Homo sapiens: one gene and its partner. The protein of the gene in region 1 interacts with the protein of each later gene in a biochemical or structural test. Each region holds a gene or a part of one and is shown on either strand. Other genes may lie near its edges.

What was found.
Region 2: the proteins of FXYD1 (region 1) and SLC8A1 form a complex in vitro, tested with the Homo sapiens proteins (one study listed by BioGRID).

Annotation. Positions count from the first base shown.
Region 1 is NC_000019.10:35,134,740-35,141,829, reverse strand, and holds the start of FXYD1 (phospholemman precursor), read right to left. Parts: upstream 3,007-7,090; 5' UTR 2,936-3,006; intron 2,696-2,935; exon of another isoform or gene 2,598-2,695; intron 2,409-2,597; exon of another isoform or gene 2,242-2,408; intron 2,197-2,241; exon of another isoform or gene 2,063-2,196; intron 1,912-2,062; exon of another isoform or gene 1,805-1,911; coding exon of another isoform or gene 1,751-1,804; coding exon 1,690-1,750; intron 1,234-1,689; coding exon 1,201-1,233; intron 699-1,200; coding exon 624-698; intron 295-623; coding exon 258-294; intron 1-257. UniProt on the Homo sapiens protein: Associates with and regulates the activity of the sodium/potassium-transporting ATPase (NKA) which transports Na(+) out of the cell and K(+) into the cell. Inhibits NKA activity in its unphosphorylated state and stimulates activity when phosphorylated.
Region 2 is NC_000002.12:40,449,081-40,456,367, forward strand, and holds the start of SLC8A1 (sodium/calcium exchanger 1 isoform A precursor), read right to left. Parts: upstream 3,011-7,287; 5' UTR 2,824-3,010; intron 2,605-2,823; exon of another isoform or gene 2,380-2,604; intron 1-2,379. UniProt on the Homo sapiens protein: Mediates the exchange of one Ca(2+) ion against three to four Na(+) ions across the cell membrane, and thereby contributes to the regulation of cytoplasmic Ca(2+) levels and Ca(2+)-dependent cellular processes.

The DNA of each region.
Region 1 (7,090 bases):
GCTTTGTGATTTTTCTATCTGTGGGGCTGTTGGAACCCACGGCCACCGCCTCCACTAGGCTGGGAGCTCGGCCAGGAAGGGCGGGAGGTTTTTTCCTCGCTTGGTCCCAGGGCCAGGCTTGGGCCATGGCACATAGTAGGTGCTTAATACATAGTCGCTGACGGGGATCGGGCTGCGGGTCAGGGGTACTCCCCGCCTCACCCGCGGCGCCCTCCAGAGCAGGAGCGGGCGAAGGAGGGCGGGGAGGGGCGTCTTACCTCTGCTGCTGGTTGAACTTGCACCGGCATCTTCTGCCTGTGGGCGTGGAGAGGTAGGAGAAGCTGAGGCTCCCTCCCGGCGGGCGCCAAGCGGCGCTGTAGCTCCAGCTCGCCCTCGCGAGGGGCGGGGCTTGGGGGACGGGGCGGGGCTAGAGGCGAGACCGGGGGCCGGGGAACCAAGGCAGGGTAGGCGGGGCAAGGCCTGGGAGGGGTTGGGGCGGGGCGGGGCCAGGGAGGGGCGGGACCAGGGAGAAGCGGGGCCAGGGAGAGGGGGGCTAGGGAGAGGCGGGGCCAGGGAGAGGCGGGGCCAGAGAGAGGTGGGGCCAGGGAGAGGCGGGGTAGAGGGCGGGAGCTAGGGGCACTCACTCAGCACGATGAGGATGCCCAGGATGAAGAGGATCCCGGCGATGACGAGGCCTCCGATCTGCAGGGACTGGTAGTCTGTGAGCAGCAGAGCAGGGAAGGTGAGGGCAGGGAAGACAGGAGGGAGAATAGGAGAGGGGTAAATTGGGAAGGAGGGAACAGGGAGAAAGGACCAGCAGGCAGAAGGGGGGAAGTAAGATAATTAAGGGGGAGCAGATATGGGAGGAGGAAAGTGGGGTACCAGGGAGAGGAAAGGGGTGTATAGGAAAGGGAGGGAGGGGACAGGGAGGAGGAGGACAGGGGGGAGAGAAGACGGGAAGAAGCAGAGGATGGGCCACGAGATGCTGAGACAGACGCAGGCAAGAGAAAGAGAACCAGAGAGGTATCACATAGACAGTGACACAGATAGACACAGACAGGAAAAGATGCAGACAGGTGGAATCAGAGAGGAAGGACAAAATAGAGGGAAGGAGAATGACAGAGATATCAATACTGGGACTCTGGGGGAGGGCGAGGGGGAATCAAAGGACCAGCAAAGCCAGGCTCTCCCCCAGGACTCAAAATTAGACCCCCCGCTCACCGTAAGTGAACGGGTCGTGTTCCTTTGGACTTTCTGGAAAGAGAGAGAAATCAGGGGTTGAATGCTTCCTGGGGTCCTGGCAGGGAGGGGCATGAGGAGACCACTGGAGGCTCTGCCTTGCTGGGCTTAGAGTCTGAGGGTGTCTGGGCAGGCTGCCCACACTCTCTGGGTCCCAGCTGCCCCCTCTGCACTGTCCCAGATGGGGCAGGTGGCACCTAACTGCCCCAGCTCCCTGACTCACGGCAGGCTGTCTGTGACCCAGTTATCCCATCGGGGATTCAGCCCCATCCCACCCCATCTTTGCCTGATCTGGGGCTTCCTCTCCCCTCCCCCAAATACCAGCCTGTGACTGGACCCCACGTGGAGACCCCCAAACTTCTTGGTACCCCAGCCGACTTAGTCTAGGTTGGGGTCTCCAACTTGGTTCTTCGGTCCCCACCGCCACCCCTGGGGCTGAGGTGGGTAGCGGGCAGCCTCCCCTGCACTCACCTGCCTTGGCCATGGTGAGGAGACCCACACAGAAAACCAAGATGTGGCCAAGAGACGCCATTGTCCTGGGGGGGACACCACGGATTAGGCAGTGTGTGCCCTTGCTCTCCCACATAGGGCTTGAACCCAAGGGATTAAGTCAGAGACAGTCTGGGGACTGAATCACAGAAGTGTTTGTCCTCTATCTTGGTGGCTCCAAGCTAGAGAAACGGGTATCCCCAGCTTCGTGGGGACACAGTGTCACCAAAACAACCTCCACGATGGGATCACACAACAACACAACGTAGCAGGGACGGGGGTGAGACACACAGTCCCCGGGGGGCCTCCCTTGGGCCTCCACCTCCCGCAGCAGGCCCCCGATTCCCAGACCTACCCTGGCAGGGCAGAGGAGGCGCTGCCTCACACAAACACAGAGCAGGAGACAGCAGGGCACGCCCAAGTCCCACCTGCCTACATGCCCGGCCTCACTGTGCCCCGCGAAATCCCAGCTCCCTGCCCTCTCCGCCCGCCCGCTCGCGGCCTGACCCCGGGTATAAATATCTCCCACTTCACCCTGGAGGAATTCTGCTCGCTCAGGCCACCATGGCAACAGCCTGCCTTCCCCCACTCAGGGGGTCACGCACAGCCCTGCCGGGGTGAGGCCCAGCTGCCACATCGCCACAGGCTGCCCCTGTGGGAAAGGTCACCCCGTCTCCTCCCTGGGCAGCAACGAGAAAAGGAAAAGACAGCCCCTCTGCCCGCCTCTGGGTGACATCTTTCACAATCGGATGTCAGGCAAGTGACATGAGGCCCAGCCCAGTGGGCCTTAGAGATAGAAAACACATGCTGGGGCAGGGATACACACACACACACACACACACACACACACACACACACACAGTGGGGCCGGAATGGACATGAACAACAACCTCTCCCCAAACTGCTGGTTGGAGCAGGACGTGGGGTGTAAACACCGTCAGGCATCCAATACTCCTCCTCTGGGCCTCCGGTGCCCCCACGCAGTGACGCAACCAGCCCTACACACGTGTGTGTCCCAACTCCACACCCTGCCAGGGTGCACACGCACCAGCAGGGCAGGGAGGAGTCACCCACATCCCACCCTGCAGAACCCACTGCCTCAACCACACTCCCTCCCTCTTGGGTTGGCCTGCCTGGGAAGCCTCGGGCTGGCCACTCCTGCTCCCAAAATAGGCGGCCCAGCCAGACCAGGGGTGAGGCCTGGAGGGAAGGAGTGGGGGACGCTCACCCCAATCGGGCTGTCCCCTGCTGAAAGAAGGCCCCCAAACGTCCTGCTGTGCCCCGGGGGCTGAGCACTTTGGACCCCCTGGCCCAGAGCTGGACGCGCCGCCCCCAGCAGCCTCCCCTCCCAGCCCCACCCCACCCATGCCCTCCCCAACCAGCAGCTGAAACTGGAGCTGGGGCTGGAGGGGGGCCAGGGGGCGGCCCCCAGCCCAGACTGCCCTGGCCCGCTTGGTTAACTCTCTCAGTTCAGAGAGAGCAGCAGCAGGCAGCCAGCAGGCAGGCTGGAGAGGCTAGGAGGATTGTGGAGGACAGGGTTGTGAACACACACACACACAAACACACACGCCTCCAAGAGCTTTTGGGCTGAGGCGGCTGCCCCCTGGGAACTGGGTCCAGCCAGGGCCGAAGGTCACCCAGCCTGACTGCCCAGGAGCCCACTGACCCCCGATCCCAGTGCTCCGTGAGGTCCTTAACAGGGCTGTTTTAGAGGACGGGAGGGAGGTGTGTGTGTGTGTGTGTGTGTGCGCGCGCATGTGCGCTATCTGCTGTGGTGAGATCCCCAGAAATGCACCACACACACACACCCACACACAATCCCAAAGACCCAGATATACAGGTACAAAACCAGACAAAACCATGTATGTATGTACATCCATAGAAGCAGACACACACAGAATGACACACTGATAGAGAAACCCAAAGACCCGGACACACAGCCAACACCTTTTATGCCAGTCACAAAATACCAGAACAAGCACATTTATGTCTACACAGACCCACGCACGCTCATGTAGATGGATGGCCACACAGAGATACAGTCAAAGACATAGCCACATCACCATCTACACTCACAAACTGGCCACAAAAATGCATGTTTATGTGAAGACCCACCCACAAATGGCCATACAGAAACACACAAGTATGTGCACACCGCACATAAATGCATTCTAAGATGCATGGCCAAACATGGCCAGGTACGGTGGCTCACACCTGTACTCCCAGCACTTTGGGAGGCCAAGGCGGGAGGATCACTTGAGGCCAGGAGTTCAACACCAGCCTGGCCAACCCGACGAGAGCTCGTCTCTACTAAAAAAATATACAAAAATTAGCTGGGTGTGGTGGCGTGCGCCTGTAATCACGGCTACTCCGGAGGCTGAGGCAGGAGAGTCACTTGAGCCCGGGAGGCAGAGCTTGCAGTGAGCTGAGATCATGCCACTGCACTCTAGCCTGGGCAACAGAGCGAGACTCTGTCTCAAAAACAAAAACAAAACAAAAAAACCCCAAAGGTACAGACATGCAGCCAGCACTCCTACATGGTCCCAAAGATAGGAAGGCCAACAAGCTTGTGTACACACAGACAGATTTCCATGGGCACAGATACACAAGCAGAAACACCATCAAGGACAACCCGCCGCTCTCACACATACCCACAAAAGCAGAAACACACACACTGGTTCACACCCTATGCTTGAGCAAACAGGCACATGGTTGGCCACGGTGACAGATGCGCAGGCTGACACACTTGCATGTTCACACATTCCAAAACCACAGATATGTATTTAACCCCACACTTTCCTTCCCCTGAGCTCTTGTCGGGGACAACACACCTGGCGTCCCCATGGGCAGGCCAGGTTTACAGGTCCTGGTGACAGGGAAACCTGGAATGGCCCAGGCACTGCACTCCTGGTTGTGTGAACTTGAGCAGCTCTGTGCCTCATTTTCACATGCTCCAAAATGGAAAAATCACTAAGATCACGTGTATAATCCTGGACAGGGCTCAGAGGTCTCTGAACTTGACATTGTCTTATGATTAACTTCATTTTTTGTTTGTTTGTTTGAGACCGGGTCTTGCTCTGTCACCCAGGCTGAAGTGCAATGGCACAATCATAGCTCACTGTAGCCTCAACCTCATGGGCTCAAGTGATTCTCCCACCTCAGCTTCCTGAGTAGCTGGGACTATGGGCGTGCGACACCATGCCTGGCTAATTTTTTAATTTTTTGTACAGTCGGGGTTTCTCTATGTTGCCCAGGCTTGTCTTGAACTCCTGGCCCCAAGCGATCCTCCCACTTCAGCCTGCCAAAATGTGGGATTACAGAAATGAGCCACCGTGCCTGGCCTATTATTATTGTCCTTGTCATCCTCCTCCTTGTGAACTGGACTGCTGGGCTGGGCACCCTATGAGAGTGGGTTCAGATCCCTCTGTGCCCCTGGCACTCAGCTCTCCAACTTCACTTTCAGGGACCCTGTTTATCATACCCAATAGTCAGTGAAGGAAACTGAGAGCTGACGGGCATGGCTCAAACCACAAGCTGCTGGGGTCTGCTCCTCTAGGAGCTGGATCCGGAGCCCACCCCCAAGCTTGCCGACCACTGTGGGATGCCCACCTTGTGCTGAACCCCAAAAGGATGAGTTGCCTCCATCACCTGAGTCCTCTCCACAACTGGGAAGCGGGTGCCACGATTGTCCCCGTTTGACAGATGGGAAAACTGAGGCCACACAGGACTGGGCCTGGAACCCAGATCTGCATGACCTCCAAGCTGTTAAGCCCCCTTATCCTCCAACGAGGCTTCTGGGCGTGGGCGTCAGTGTCAAGAGAGGCTGCATGCATTCCTCAATCACAGGATGAGTCTCGTCCCCAGGCGATGAGGTGGTACAGCCTAGGGGTTAGGTTTAGAGCTGACTAGAGCCAGGAAACTAATCACATAACTTCCCTGTGCCTCAGTTTCCCCATCTGTAAAGCAGGGATAGCAGTACTGCCCATCTCACAGGGTGGCTGTGAAGGCTGAGTGAGTATAAACATTACTACTATTTCATCTTAGCTAACAAGTGTCATTTACTTATGTTTCTTATTTAGTGGACAGAATCTATCCAAATGACTAAAATTTAGTCCAGATTAAAACAACCAATTATCCATCTATCCATGAACTCTGATCTCCAAAGAAAGAATGCAAAATAACCTGGAGCCGGATGCCTGGGTTTGAATCCCGGCTGTGCCCTCAGCTGGGTAACCTAGAGTTCAGGTTCCCTGACCTCTGTCTCCACTTCCTCCAGCTGTAAAGTGGTGATGATGACAGCACTAACTTCAGAGGGCTTTGGCAAGATCAGAATGAGTTAATAGATGAGCTTTTAGGACAAGGCCAGGCTCAGAGTAGACGCTGAAGAAGGGGTGGCATCATCATCATCATCTTCACCATCATCATCATCTTCATCATCATCATGTCCTCGGGTTGGTGCTGTCCCCCAGTGGGTGTTGGCCACTAGAGGGTTAATTTCAGGGTAGGGGAGGGAGGCTAAGGGCTTGGGGCCGGGCAGAGGTCCTGCCGAGTATGACCACCAGAGGGAGCAGCTGGACGTGATCTGGCCCCACTGACAGCGCCCAACACACCCTCCTGTAGCCAGGGGAGGGGGCTGGCAGAGAGTGGCCAGGACGGGATGTCCCCAGCCCCCCCAGGGCCTCTCCTCCCACCCTGCTCCAGAATGCAGAGCCATCTGGTCCCCACCCTGGTGACATCGTCCTCCTGCTCCCCCAATAGGGTTGAGTGGGGAATCTGGGGAGGGGGCTGGCGGGAGTGGTGGGGCGGCTCCAGCCCTTGGTGGCCCCTCCCCCTCCTGTGGGGCTGTCCAGTCCCTTCCCCCAAGGCCGACCTTCTCATGGCCTCTGACCCCCTCCTCCTTCCCATCCTACTCTGCCGGGTGTGCCGGGTGTCCAGCGAACCCCTTTCCCAAACCTTCGGGGAGAAGGGAGGTGGGAGGAGGCAAAGAAACTACAGGCAGGGAGCTGGAAGGGGGGGTGGGGGGGGCAGGAGACAAGAAATCAAGACACCAGGCAGCAGGACACACACACACTCACATACACTCACACACATAGAGACCAACAGATAGACAGCTACCTAAAGCCTGAAAGACTGACAGCAACACAGAAAAAAAGAAACAGGCAGAAAGAGAGACAAAGACAGAAATAGAAACAGACTAACACACAGAGTCAAAAATACAGAGACAGAAAGACAGGGAGAAAGAGAAACAGAAAATTAGACACCAAAGACATACGAACAGGGAGGAAGGCCGACTGAAAGAAAGACGGAGAAGAGGAGAGAGAAGCCAGGGCCGAGCGTGCCAGCAGGCGGATGGAGGGCGGCCTGGTGGAGGAGGAGACGTAGT
Region 2 (7,287 bases), on another chromosome or scaffold:
ATATACTATCCTCCCTGTACCTAAAAGGCATCACAAAGAAAGAACTTGTCTCACTGAATTGCAACATTAAAAAAAAAAAACAAAAAACAAAAAACAACAACAAAAAAAAACACACAGACATTAATGTCCCAAAATGCACTTACTTTGAGACAACCACATCTATGAGCTAAATGAATGCCTTGGCTGGCTTTTTAAAGGGGAATTGCAACTTCCTTGGATCTGCACAGCTTTTCTCATCATTTATTTTGTCAAAGAAATAGATTGAATACTAAGAGGAATCATGTGTTTATTTTGCAAGTAAATAAAAGTCTATATTTGCCTGGCAAAAGCATGTTAAACATAGCTTTTTAACAGATGCTGAAGTTCTCTTGGAATATATTTTATTTTTTCAAAACACAGAAAGCTTAACAGAGCAATTAACATAATTCCTGCAAATAGTCCTATAGATGTTACTGACTATACCTCACTTTCCATTTGTAATTTTATTGGGAGTCAAAGCACTGTTACTCCCATGCTCTTTTCTTCCCCTGGTCAACAAAAGGGCTATGTGCTTAATCTGAAACGTTACAGTAGGAACCACTATATAATAATATTAAAGTAAAGACATAGGTAGATAGATACATAGAAAATAAGCCTTCATATTTTAGTTCATTACTCTCCTCCTTCAGCCCTGTTAAGCTTTCAAGACAGTAAAGTCTGATTATCATGACACTCTTACATCCTTTGTAGCCCTATACAGCTCAACAATAAATAATGGTTTATCTCTGTTCAGTCCTTTTTGTTGCTGTTGTTTTTCTAGGAATTAATCATTTTTTTAAAAAAAGACAACAACCATTTTAAGGGGACAAAATCAGGGCTTCTTTTATAGCAGGTGTGAGAAATCTTAGCTAAAGAGCCGTGAGATCCAAATGGAATTCTTCAAGCAGGCAGAATTTGTAAAACGAAAACCATTTAAGAGCACACATCTTGCCTCTTGATGAAATAAGTTGGTCCTCCCCCACCTTCTCACTCACAAGGCCCCAAAGATGGAGCTAGTTTTCCCTTCCTTCCTCCTGCTTTCACACCCGCCTAACCTCCCAATTAAGCAAGTTTAGCAAACCCAGGGAGCTCAATCCAAGTAACACAGGATTTGAAAGAGGAACCTAAAACCAATCATCCCTCTTCCGGCTTTGTCTTCTTATTTGAAATGAATGAAACATCTAGATTCATTTTCCTTTTTTTTTCTGACTCGCTGCAGGAGTAGCTTTGAGAGAGAAAGAGAAAGCATGTGAGTGTGTGTGTGTGTGTGTGCACGCGCGCGCGCTGGTGGGGGCATGGGAAAGAGAGGTATACTTTCAGAATTCTCTCCTGGTGGCTCCCTCTTTCCCTTGGGAAATCTTCGCACAAGTCTCAGATTGTGCATGTTCAACTGCTCATATCTGGAGATACTCCAGCAATGCCTTTAACCAGATCTGATCAGAAATCTCCACCTACTCAGCTAGAGGCTCCTCCATGATCAGGACGCTTGTACTGTCTTCACCACATCTGTCATTTTTTAAAAAGCTTCTTCCACTACACCTCCCACTGATATCCTTTTTTTCTCTTTTTAGTCTTTACACCTCCAGCAGGACAAAGTTTGTATTGTTATATTCACAACCACTAGTAGCTGACTAGCAGGAGAGAGAGAGAGCGGCTTCAGGAGAGCCAGGTTCGGGGGCTTCAAAAGGATACCTAGCGCAAAGCATGACTTTCCAATGACTGCGTACAACATGCACATTGCTCTCTTCTAAAAATGCTTTGTTAAATTTCATCACCCCTGTTCTCAACTCAACCACTACCACTTTGGAGAGGGAAATACAAATTGCCAGCCCAAGCCATTCATCAAACAGCAACAGAATCCACGGGGTGGTGGGGGGGATAGAGAAGAGGCGGGGGTGATGCAGGGGGTGGATTTAAAGAATCAAGGATGCACACGTACTGTATTTTCAAGAGCATCGCCTGGGCGGATTTGGTTTCTTTGGCCGGCTGTCCAGCTATAAGACCGCCCTCTTCTTCATTAAGGAGGAGCCAAAAAGGATATCTTCACATCTCAGAACACAGACCATTTCCCCCAAGAGCCAGCAAAGCTCCAGAGGCAGAGAATGCAGCTGCAAAGTTCCCTTCCAATCTCTTGGGGAAAGATGCCTGTGTGTGCAGAATCCCCAAAGCACACCACGGCACAGTGCCCAGAGACGTGGACCCCGCAGCCCACTCCCTGCTACCCCCTACATTTCTTCCTCGTCTGTCTCTGCCCCGCCACACCTCCCTCCTCTCCGCAGTCCGTGGTGAATGAGCACCCAACGCCCGCTGGAAAACAGGGGGCTCGGAAATGTGGCCTTGGGGAAAGACCCCAGGGATTACCGGAAGGAGGGATGTCCGCGGAGAAGAGTCCAGTGGGTGGGGACGCCTGGATCCCCAGCAGCTCTGCATTCGGGGTGGACTTAGCTCTTCGCGCCCTGAATCCTCAGAGCCCAGCGCGGTGCAGGGTGCAGCATCTCTCCTTAGCAGCCCTTTCTTCCTCCGGCAGCCTGCACTGGCAGGCAGGCAGGCACCCTCACGCCCAGACGCACCAGCCCGAGCAATTTCACTCTGGGAAGCGCGGACACCCAGAAAAATGTGCAGGCGCGCACACACCACATCACACACACACACACACACACACACACACACACACACACACACACACAAATTTAGAAGCCGCTCGTTTGCCAAAGCAGAGGGAAGTGTAGCCTTATGAGCAGCAAATGGAAAATAGTTCTTGGTCTCTGACTAAATGCCTTCTGCCTGTCCATCATAAGATCCTACCTGGTTTGGGGAGTGTGAATGGATTCTTCCTCCGTTCCTCCACGCTAGTAGAAAATACGGCGCACTCCCTCCTTTTAAACAGCTCCCGATCAGGAAGAGGTCGCTCCCATCTTCTGTGGGAAGCACAAAGCAGGCGGCGGCGGCGGGCTGACTACCGTGCAGCGCCGGCGCGAGCGGGAGCCGCGGCAGCGGGCAGCGGTGCGCGCGGGCGGGAGGCAGGCGCGGAGGCCGGGAGGCTGGGAGGGCCGGGGCCCGGGCGCGCGCGCGCTCCCCCTCCCTCCCGCGCACACTCGCCCGCCCGCCGCCCGCAGCCTCGCACTCGCTCACACGCGCGCTCGGCCCCGCGGCTGCCGGGCGCCCCGGGGCCCCCTGCGCGCCCCTTGGGCTCCCCAGGCGATCGCGTCGGGGCAAAGCCGGCGCGTTTCTGGAGCACCGAGCGGGTGGGGAGCCCTTCCAGCCTCCCAGCCTCTGCCGGCGAGCAGCTTTTTCGATTTCCTGCCGGCTCTCGGCCCCGCAGTGCGTTGTGGCCGCGCGCTAGCGCTGTCTCTCGCACCCAGCCCATCGATGACACGCGCACACAGGCGCTGCAACTTTTCTTTTGAACCCTCTTCTTCTCTTCCGCAGACAGAACCCTGACCCCCAATTCGCCTACCCGTTTCTCACCTCTGACTTTGTTAATCCAACTATCTTTCTTCCCTCACTTCCTGCCCTTCTGCTAAAGGAAGCTTTCTTTTAGCAAAAGGATCTGGGCATATATCAATGATTTTTTTTTTAATCCTCACCCTGTGTTTTTCTACGTATCAGATATGCACAACTATACGTTGGCTACTAGATGCTGACACAAGCAAACAGAGATATTCGGGGGAGGGTGTCCCCCGGCCAAGAACTGGGACAGAGTCTCTGTGTTGGTATTTCCCTCAAAGATGCGTTTCACCTGGGAATAAAGACCCAGAGTCTGTTTCGTGTGAAAGGCGTGCTGGTTTTAAACTACAGTGAGGAGTAAAAGCCGAGCATTAAGGTTGAGTGGGAAAAAACCTAATGCAGCAATCGACGAACCATTCTTTGCCCTTTCCAAGAGAAGCATTATCATTGCCAATAAATCACTTTCCTCATAATTAATAAAGGAACACTGCACCAGGCCTTTCCTCTCTTGACAGCTCATTCATTCTTACAAACCCTTAATGACTTCACGTGGTGAAAGGCTAGACCTACTGTGGAGTTCACTAGCTTCCAAACCTGGCTGCGCATCACACACACCTGGGAATGTAGTCAGATGCTGTAGAATCTGAGGCCGAATCTGATGCAGACTCTCCCGTTGTAGGTCTCAAATGGGGCTCCAAATTAGTATTTTTAAAACACCAGTTGCTATCGGCCACTGGTGTCGTTTGCCAAGGTGTGTGGGGGGGTCAGGAGCAGCTACTTGGGGAAGGTGGGAGAAGGAGGGACCTGCAGAGCACAAGGCAGAAAGTTAGTTTTTTTTCGTGGAGACGTCCCCCCATACTTACAGTGCAACCAGGGCAGTCACCACGACTGATAGATTCTGACTCCAGGAACCTCAGTTTGCCTCCGCAACAAAGAGGGGGCGGAATGGAAGAAATAGCCTCTTCTGCCCCTGTGCCAGTGGCTCTCAACCCTCCTTGCACCTCAGAATCTCCTGGGCCGTTTTTAAAAATCCCAGTGCTTAGGCCACACCCCCAAACTGATTAACTTTGACTCTCTGCAGGTGGGCCCCAGACAGCCTTAATTTGTTTTTAAGATGCCTGGTTGATTCCTATGTGCAATGAAGGTTGAGAACCACTGCTCTAGGCCAATACTCCTCAAACATGAATGTGAGTATGAATCACATGGGGATTGCAGATTCTTTTTCAATAGACCTGGAGCAGGCCTGGGGTAGGCAAGTGTTGAAGTGATGCTGAGGCCGTCTGAATGAGGACCTCACTTTAATTAGTCGGGTCTGTTGCCAGCAGTCTTGGATACTGGCTTTGTAGAGGACACTCTAAGCTGCTTCACGTCTTATAAAATTTGCAGGAATCGTTCTTGCCTAAGAACATTTTTCTTTCCTTGCTATAAGTTAAATTTTCTTGGAAGCTACTTTCCACACCAACTTGGTTAGACTACACTTACTAGTGGATATAAACAGAATGACCTGTGGGGAGAGACAGAAGGTCACTGTCTCTTTTAGAATATGTCCTCTACCAAAAATTACTTAGAGTCCCTGAATTTAAGGCAGTGTGAGTAGCAGATATTTGGCTCACACTCAATGAAAGGGGCTTGGAGAGAAAAGTGGCTGCCTTCTAAATAACACTAAGGAAAGCTTATAACTAAAGACTCCACTCAATAGGAAATAGAACACAGCCAAATGAAGGAACCAAGAGAAAGCTAAATGAAAATGTGAGTGGGCCATATTTCACTGGAATAGATTTTGTGGAAAGAGTGTAGCCTCTTATTGCTATGACGGGCCGCTTAGTGAAAGCTGAGATTTTCTTGAAATTTTAGGCATGTTTGTGACATGGAGTGACAAGAACCCTGTTCTTTAAATGTTTATACTCCAGTGATGCCCAAAGTCTGTCTTAAGACTTTTTTTTTTTTTTTTTTTGCTTTGACCATTGAAACTGAAAGGCTACATCTTGGCCACTTGATTCTTCCTCTTTTCCAATCGAAACTGCTTTTAGACTGATTTGGATTCTTGGGAAAAAAACAATATTAAATGGTCTTCTGTTTATCTAGAACTATTGGAGAGGCAGCCTAGTGCCTAGTGATTTGGCATCCTTTTTGGTTCAGTCAGTTTCTGAGCCCCTAATTTTCTTTGCCTTTCATTTCTCTTTAAAGGCATTTTTATAATGGTTCCAGGGCCCCAAGGCAAATCAAACCTTTTGCTCCCTCCTAAATGTCATACATGAGTGAGTTTTTATTGCGAGAATTATCAAAGGCTGCATCACAGGCACAAGGCTGAGGAAGACTATGGCTCTAAGAAAGGAAAAAGTGAGGCTGCTGCAGTCTGTGGCTTTGGAAAGAAGACATGTTGAATGGAGGAAGGTGGTAATTTACATTCTAATAGCAGTAATGTTTCTTAATTGCAGTCTTCCATATTGATTGCCATTCTTTCCTCTGGACTTGGAATTAAGAGTCACCGGGTCTCCACTGTTATCTAACCAAAGCAATACGACACAACCATTCAGGGGACTCCACAGGGATATCACTAAGATTTGATATATTCGAAAGATGTTCTGATGTTCACAAACTATTTCCTAGGAAACCTTCAGGGGATCTGTTAGCAAACTCATTTTCAGACCAAGTGTAAATATTGTGAATTAGGCCCTACTTTTTATCTAGTCTATAGAAAATTTAGACATGTGATCAGGTTACCAAGATTTTTAAAAATATTTAATACTTTACTAAAGCACTCAATATGTTTTCATCATAGGGAAAACAAGCACAATACTCTGTTTAAATTCCTTTCATTTTTACTTTGAATTACATAAATCAGAGGTACCTCTATTGTCTCTTCCATTGCTTCGGGCTTCTGAAATATGTTAATACAGTCTTAGTCGTCCCTCACCTCATTTCTTACTCTGCCAGCCTTCACTAATCACCTATCTGTTCAGTCACAGGCTCAGTTTCATAGTGATTTCTACATAAGAAAATGTTATTACATAATAGCCCCTAGCCTGGCCAGTGAGTGGAGCTTAGAATTAGCCATTTTTCCATACCTAAGAATCTCAGGTGAACCATTGGGTTCCCAGTTTTGTTCTTTAGGTTTTCTTTGCTGATGAGTAGATCCAGGGTTCTTTGCTTTGGGGATGACTTTGAGAATTCTTTGTTGACTTCTAAGTGCTGTTGTTCCTCTTCCCTGGAGACTTGTTCCTGCAGTTAAACTTTTACTTCTCTGTTTTGTTTTGACCAACTGAACACCACTCTTGTACCTCACCCAGTTGTAAACCCTGCTACTGCACAACAGTCCACAGACTGGGGCAGCCTTCCTGGCAGACTCACAGTCACAACTCTCCTCCTCTCTGCATTACCGTGGGGTCAACCACTTCCTCTGAGTCGCCAATGAATTTGTCACAGTCTTTGGACATCAGGGACCTGCAATTCTACATTTGAGCAACTGATATTAAAGAATTGGGTTTGGGCTGGGCGCGGTGGCTCACGCCTGTAATCCCAGCACTTTGGGAGGTTGAGGCGGGTGGATCACGAGGTCAGGAGATCGAGACCATCCTGGCTAACATGGTGAAATCCCGTCTCTACTAAAAATACAAAAAATTAGCCGGGCGTGGTGGCGGGCACCTGTAGTCCCAGCTACTTGGGAGGCTGAGGCAGGAGAATGGCGTGAACCCAGGAGGCGGAGCTTGCAGTGAGCAGAGATCACACCACTGCACTCCAGCCTGGGTGGACAGAGCGAGACTCCGTCTCAAAAAAAAAAAAAAAAAAAAAAAAGAATTGGGTTTGTACAAAATTCTGAGA